Homo sapiens: one gene and its partner. The protein of the gene in region 2 purifies or fractionates together with the protein of the main gene of each other region. This does not show direct contact. Each region holds a gene or a part of one and is shown on either strand. Other genes may lie near its edges.

Region 1 (4,159 bases), on a different chromosome or scaffold from region 2:
AGTCTTCCCCCACCCTCATGGGAAATTTAGAGCCCCAGGAAGGAAGCTAGGCTGGGGTTGTATACCAGACTGAGGAGACAAACATATATCTGATGCTCTGATTCATTCATGCAAGGACTTCATGGTGTTCACATCCCTGTATGCCAGGGCTGGGGGTGACTGAAGGGCAGAGATGCTCCTAACCCACCCCTCAGGCAGGGTGATGCTCAGAAGCTCCTGGGTTGACACCCAGGGCCCTTCAGCTCATCTTCTGGTCTGATTTCCTTTCAGAGGCAGTTAACCTGCCTACAGACGCTGCTATAGAGGCACTGGCCCTGTACCACCTAGGACCTGTGGGGTCAGAGTTTAAAGGATCCACAGGCCATCTCAACTCTTCCTGGTAATCTGGAGTCCCACCTCCTGCATCAACTCCCGAATACTAGTCAAGAGAACCACCCCTTGAGTCACTGACCCAGAGTAACAGTCCTTGAGTAACACCTATAGATAATATTCCATCACTCCATCCCCATAAGAATCCTCAGAGTATAAAACAAACAAAATATCCATGAGTAATAAACCCCAGATCCACCTTTAGAGCCACATTCCCACAAAAATTGAGCCCTAAGTCTAAGATGTTATTACTTAGATCCAAGTAATAACCCCTAGAATTATACCTAGGAGAAACAGTCTCTAGACCACATATCCAGAACAGAGCCCTGAGTAACACTCAGTTTTATACTAATGCCAGAGTACTAGTCACAGATCAACACTTTTGGAATATACCCAGACCAACACCCTACAAGTACCAGAATAGCACACCTGGAGACACAGCCCTGTGTAACACCTTCATAGTGACAGCCTTGAGTAGTGTCCTTAGAATAACACCCAGAAGGGTTCTCCAGGGAGAAAGAACCTCAGATTAAGGCCCTGTGAATGAAGTCTTGTCATTCTGAGTTGCGGAGGAGCCCTTTAGTCATACTGCGGCTGTAGTGGCCATCCCAGGCTGGGAACTATCATCCGTGGAACTCAGGCCAGGGAGATTTGCATGGGGCCAGGGTTAGGGAGGAGGTGACAGGAAAGAAAGGAAAGGTGTATCAGCCTGCCAAGTGAGTGATAACCTCCATTCTGCTTCCAAAGACAGAGGAAGCAACTGGGTCACCCCCACTGGTCACTGGAATATGACCTTGTGACTTGATGTGTGAGAAGGTAGGCAGGGTGGTGCTGGCATTGGAATCCCCAGCCCCTAGACTGCCTTCCCTACACCTGGCTGGGCATGGTGGCTCATCCCTGTAATCTCAGCACTTTGGGAAGCTGAGGTGGGAGGATTACCTGAAGTCAAGAGTTCGAGACCGGCCTGGGCAATACAAGAAAACCTTGTCTTTACAAAAGAAATTTTAAAAAATTAGCCAGGCATCTGTCTTTCCCTCCCTGTCACTATCCTCCAATCTTCTCTCTGTCTTTCTATAGGTCTCCGTGTCTCTGTGTCTCTTTTCATCTTGCAGAGGGTGGTGGGGGTGGGTGGGCTGCTAATCACCTGGCTGTGCTTTTGCCAGAAGAGAGAGATAGGGAAGAGGGCCGGACATTGAGGGCATAGGTCCTACCTGCTTGAATTGTTCCTCGTAGGTCCACTCGTGGGGATGGAGTCCAGGGGGCTGGCTAGAAGGCGAGCTGGGGCCCTGGGCCCCTGGACGGCTCTCCTCAGCTGCCTCCTCCTCTGCCCCGGCTTCCTCCCGCTTCTCCTCATCTTCTTCAGCATCTTCCTCTTCCTCAGCCCCAACATTCCCCAAGGCCCCCTCAGGGGCCTGTAGGGTCCGGTGGTCAGGCAGGGGAGGCTGCGGTGGCAGCAGCGGGCATGCAGGGGCCAATGGCCCCACCCCCTGGGCCAGCCGAGCTGCCTGCTGCTTCTGCAGGGCCTCCATGACAGCTTCCAGGCGCAGTCCCCCAGCTGAGGGGGTCCCTGGTACCAGGCGGGACCCCGAGGAAAGGGCCGCCTGTGGGGGAGGGAATTATGGGTGCTGGGCCCTACTGCCCCCAGAGCCCCCCAACACAGGGGGAGGTGGTCATGGATTCAGGGAAGTGCAGGGGTCACAAGGAAAGAGGCAGAAAGATGGCTTTCCCAGAGGTGAACAGAAACAGGACCAGACCCGGGGAATCAAATGGCCATTGACTGAGGACTGGAAGAGTGAGCAGATCAGAGAGGGTGACGGGGACCAAGAGACATCGGGAAATGGTGAAGGAAGGGAGAGAGAAAGAAAAGGAGAAGGGGGATGTCCGACAGAGACAATGACAGGGAGATGTGAAAATAGAGATGGAACAGGGTGACAAGGAGAGACAGAAGTGGGGTGACACAGAGACTGAGAGGGACCAAGATGGAGAGAGGCAGAGGTATCAGGCAGAGACAGGGTAGACAGACAGAGATGGAGAGAGATAGAATATTGGGTAGAGAGACAGGGAGGGTAAGAGAGGTAGAGGAGCAACAGATAAAAGACCTAAGTGACAGGTAGCTCAGAGACGGACAGAGACGGAGAGACAGAGGCGGAGATAGACAAATAGACAGGGGTTGAGATATAGGGAAAGACCAAGACAGCAGGAAACGGACAGAAGAGAGAGATTAGAAAGAGACAGTTAAATAGAGAGGGACCGACAGAGACAGGGACGGGAAAAACAGCCGGAGAGAGGGGCAGAGGACAGGGACCAAGGAGTCGCGGGGATGGAGGGCGGTGGGGCAGAGCCTGGGACGGGCACGGGACCGGACGGGCAGGAGGCGGCAGAGTCGCGACGCCCGGCTCCCTCGCTCCGGGCGCCCCGCGGCCGCACTCACCTGCCTGGCGTGGCCCGCTGCCCCTGGCGTCTCCACGGCGCTGCCTTTGCTCCGCCCGCCTCCCAGGCGGCCCTGGCCTCGGCTGGGTCCCGGCGGTGCGCTCCCGCCGCCCTGTGCTCCTCTGGCGGCTGTGCGCTCACTCGCCGCGCTGCTTGCGGCGGCCGCGGGGGCGGGACCCGAGCGGGGCAGGGCGGGCGGGGCGCATGGGGAGAGGCCCCTGTGGGATCTGCCGCTCTCAGCTCCCCAACAGGTGTCTCCCACCTTCTTTCCAGCCAGCTTCGGGGGCAGGGGGCGCTGGAAAGCTGCGGGGGAATCGTGCGAAAATGAGGGCTCTACCGCCACCGGACTCCGGACCAGAGCCCCGCCCAGCCTCACAAGTCGTGCCCCCGACACCCACACTCGGCACTGGGCTTCCACATACAAATAGCCGCATCCACACACCAACACACCTTGTCACAAGTTCAGGCGCATAGCTTCCCAGTCTCACACGTTCCGTGACATGGTCACCACAGTGCCAATGGCCTGGGCACGCTGTGATCAAGAGGGGAATCCCTCTGCAAGATGCTGGGGTGTGCGTGGAGGGTCTGGTCAGAATAGAAGCTTCTCCCTTTGCCTTGAGCACCCCTGCCCTGCCTACGTGCTGTCCCCCACTGCGGGCATGCTGCGGTTTGCACACATGAGTGCACATGGTGGTGGACCCACACCTATGCACTCACACACTCTCAGAGGTCTTTAAGCTGACTGCACACTCACCGCATGCAGATACACAGCCACACACAGTTTTTGTCTCTTTTGACATTCTATTATGGAAATTTTCTTTTCTTTTCTTTTTCTTTCTTTTCTTTTTTTTCTTTTTTGGAGACAGAGTCTCTGTCACCCAGGCTGGAGTGCAGTGGCGCGATCTGGGCTCACTGCAGCCTCCGCCTCCCAGGTTCAAGTGATTCTACTGCCTCAGCCTCCCGAATAGCTGGAATTAGCTGGGATTACAGGCGTCCACCACCAGACCCGGCTAATTTTTGTCTTTTTAGTAGAGATGGGGTTTCACCATTTTGGCTAGGCTGGTCTCGAACTCCTGACCTCAAGTGATCCACCCACCCTGGCCACCCACAGTGCTGGGATTACAGGCATGAGCTACCGTACCCAGCCTGTATTATGAAAATTTTGAAACATAGACAAGTGAATAGTATAATGAACCTCTGGTACTCATCATAGGTTTGTTTCAACAGTGACCGGCACTTCGCCCATGTTCACACACATTCTCCACCTATGTGTGCCTGACTGCCACATCTGTATCTCCAGACCCCCTCAGCCCACTGCTTTGCGCCCTCCCCCTAACTATTCCCAAGACGCTGAAATGCT
Region 2 (3,950 bases):
TTGCATACCATGCTACACAGCAGTTACGCATACCATGGTCCGGTGTATGCGTGTGTGTATTACCTTAGATGCATTTAAATTTGTATTATTATTTAATGTGTCTTTGTATGGTTGGCATCACCACTACTTTCAAAACATCTTTGGTGCTGGCTGTGAGTAGCTCATGTCTTCCATTTAGCTACAAGTACGGGTTATCTACCATTTGGGTCACAAGTCACTGTCTACATCATGAGAGTATACTTGGTGTTAGTTTATCCATGTCCCAGACAAATTATAAGGGATGAAATAAAAAGGGCAACAGAAACTCAACGGAAACTACTCTTGCAAATTTAGACATAAAAATTATTCTCAATACAAGAGGCATTCAGTGTTGTAGAATTTTATTTATTTTCAATTTTAAGATGATGAGGAATTAGCATTAGGATTATGATTAGCATGACCATTAGAAATCAGTATTAGCAATTAATATTCAGAGGAAATACCACAGGGACGTAAACATTGAGCTATAATTCACTGATTATTTTTGGAAATTAGAATTTTTCATAGTTCTTCATAATTAAGAAAAACTGAGTGTGTTTTATACAATTTCAGGTTACAATAAAGAAACAAATATCCACAACAAACTTCATGGAAGTAAAGGATGATTTTTCACATTGTTTAAGGCTAAAAGTGTCCCAAGAAAGACATTTTACCAACATATTTGGGAGTAAAATTGATCAAACTAGTCTAGTGCTCCTCTAAATATTCTAAAAATATTAGCATTTGAGTCAATTGCCCAGAAAAAGAAGTTGCTATTGAGAATAATGATGATGACATCGTGGAGTTTATTTTGCAAAGTGTCATGCTAAGAAGTACTTTGTAACTATTGACTCCCTGATCTTCACAATAAAACTAAGAAGTGAGGAGCTATAAAAGCCCCTCTCACCAATGACAGCATTGAGGGTAACGTGTTGGTGGTCACGGGGTCTGTTAGTGCCAGGAGTGTTTGGACTAGATAGTCTCAATTCATTATATATTCATACACATGGCATTGTGTATATAGGAAGCTTTATATGGGAATAGCAGCTAGACATTTACTGTAATTAGCAAATAAAATGTACCAAGCATGTGAACCTGCTAAATTGTTAACAATGTAATAACTAATGTGACTAATGAAAATTAGTCATACTTGAGAGTAGATCACATAAATTATTATAATCAGGATTGCTGTTTTATGGATATAAACTATGTGTACAGATATACACACATATATAAAAATGTACACATAGATACATCATATGTATATTTTATATATATATATAATGTATATTTTGCTAATTCAGAATATTTGGTGTCAGGTTTTATACATTTTTATGATACTATGTACAATGTCATCATTACTTACAACCTCCCTCATTTTACTTTTTTTAGGTTTCATTAATGGAACCTATAAAAATATATTTCTAAAGGGAAACTCCTCTCCAGTTTATGTCGCAGCCTAAATATTAGCAGTATTTCAGCTACTTCCACACTTCCTACATTTTCGGTTTGACTTTTATCATGCGATAAGACACCAGAAACAGAGGGAAAATCATGTGCTGCTTCACAAAGTCAAACAGTGGTCTCTGCTGTCTGTTCACCCTTACTCCCATTTTATACACACACACACACACGTATATGTAATAGCACAGGGACATACATATTGAGGTATAACTCACCGATGATTTTTGGAAATTGGAATTTTTCCGTAGCTCTGGCAATTAAGAAAAACTGAGGGACTGTTTTATACAATTTCAGGTTACAGTAAAATCCACAACAAACTTCAAGAATATAAAGGATGATCTTTTATCCATTATATATATATATATAAGTATATACATTCATAATTTCCTCCCATAGATTTATATATGTATATATGTAACTCTTCTGTGGTTCTAGCTTTTTCTATGGCCAGCTAGCCCTGCAAACCTAGCAATGCAAAGGGAAATTCTAAAGTCTACTCCATTTTGCAGCCAAGTGGCCTTACTTTTCCTATCTGCATACAAAAGATCTAATTTATCAGAGAACAAGCCCTCCTCAAAGTAAATTATGATTTTAAGTAAAATGTTTTGTTAAATTTATTATCTGCTCTCTCACTAGAGTGAGCACAATAAGTAACTATACTTGTTGAATATCTCCTGGGCATAGATCATACAGCTTTGCTATGGTTTAGTACACATAAAAATAATCAGAAAATGTTTGGAATGATTCTGTGACTTTATATAGGCATTTGTTTCTGAAATGATGAAGGCAACATACAGTAAAACAAAATTTAGAATTAAATGAATTGAGTTCTTCCTCTGGTCACGACATTAATTAATTCTGTGACCTTGGATTATCTTCCTAAACACCCTGAGCCTCAGTATCTGCTTATATTAATTGATATAATAAACATTCAGGGTTACTTTAAGAATCAAATAAGAAATTTATAGTTACAGGTGCAAATATTTTATACAATACCAAGTAAAATGTAAGATATCTGCAAATTATTTCAAAACTATTGGTAAATGGGTGCAAATTCTCAATCTCTCATTTAAGCAATCTACATATTCAACTAAAATCTATGAATTTAAATTGCAAATACCTCCTGATCTTCAGAAAAGGTCTGTAAACCCAGGTGCTCCCAGTGAAGTTACATCAGCAGTTAAAGTCTATCTTTTCCCCCAAGTATCCTTTGACTTGAAAGGATTGTTACTTAGTAGAAATTCTCAGAAAAAACTGTGCATTTCAATTAAGCTTGCAGAACATCTAAATGCCTTTGAAGAGCAGAAGTATGCTTGGCCTGCAAATTTTGAGAAAATTATTTTTAAAAAGTTAGTGGATAAAATAGACATAATTTTATTGGATAAAATTGTCTTTTAGGCCTACCTAAACTATTTTTTATTGCATAATACCGTACACCAAGAGATAAATCAATGCATTTATGTTATCCTGACATTTGTAAATATTCTGTACTATTTTATAAGGCGTGCATGTTGGTTGAGTAGGGATGGCCGCAAATATTTTCCTCCCACATCACTACAGTTTGAAGGTAGGACACAATGCTTGCCCAGGACTGTGATGATCTCCAAGCCCATCCTTTAAATCAAGTGACAAGATAATTCCTAACTTGTAAGTTGCAGCCTTTGCTTGCTTCCCTATGACCACTGGTGAAGTTTCTGCCAAAGAAAAGAGCAAGCTCCATGCTCCTTCAATGCAGCAGCCTTGTTAGGAAGCTCTGCATTAGCTTAAATTAAAGCTGCTTCATGCAGGATTCTTCCTTGCCTTCTGAATCTGCTTGGAACCAGTTTTCTCTCTTTGCAACATTCAACATTTCATAATGTGAATATGACTACAAGGTTTTCTGTCCTCCTTCTCTATACCGGTCACACTTCTCCAGTTATTTTATGCATTCATGTATGAATTTTTTTCCAAAGTGCTCAACTTCCAGGTATTTACTGGGGATAGCTTTTGCAATGTCTATTTTAGAATATAATACCTCAATTTCAACAGATTACTGTAGGTGTGGTTTTTCCTGTACAGAATACACTGGCAATATTACTTTTCTGTTGTTATCGCAGACACATTGAGTCATTACATACACATTCAAACTTACAGTTACCTTTTCACATGAGAAGTTCTCAAGACAGGTCAATACAGTGCTGTGCAATTTTGAGACTAAATACAAAAATATATGTTCCTAGTTTTTCTCCGTGTTCCTAAATTCTGTTTAGTATTTCAAAAAGTTGGAATCATTAAGAATGAACTCATATTGAAATAATAATCATACAATTATTAGATAATAAAGCACTAATGTACTCTGACAATTTTAGAGTAACTTAGAACCACATTCTTCAACCCACACACACCTCCTACAAGACCCATAAAGAGACTACACACTAGAATAAACCCCTCTACTAGAGAGACCTGTTATTTCTGATGAGAGTTTATTT

What was found. The genes of interacting proteins can lie anywhere in the genome.
Region 1: the proteins of OR2T1 (region 2) and ARID3C purify together in Homo sapiens (affinity purification with mass spectrometry; one large-scale study listed by BioGRID and IntAct). This does not show direct contact.

What each region holds. Positions count from the first base shown.
Region 1 is NC_000009.12:34,626,117-34,630,275, forward strand, and holds the start of ARID3C (AT-rich interactive domain-containing protein 3C), read right to left. Parts: upstream 2,801-4,159; intron 1,971-2,800; coding exon of another isoform or gene 1,899-1,970; coding exon 1,581-1,898; intron 1-1,580. UniProt on the Homo sapiens protein: Transcription factor involved in monocyte-to-macrophage differentiation.
Region 2 is NC_000001.11:248,401,898-248,405,847, reverse strand, and holds the start of OR2T1 (olfactory receptor 2T1), read right to left. Parts: upstream 2,801-3,950; 5' UTR 2,603-2,800; intron 1-2,602. UniProt on the Homo sapiens protein: Odorant receptor.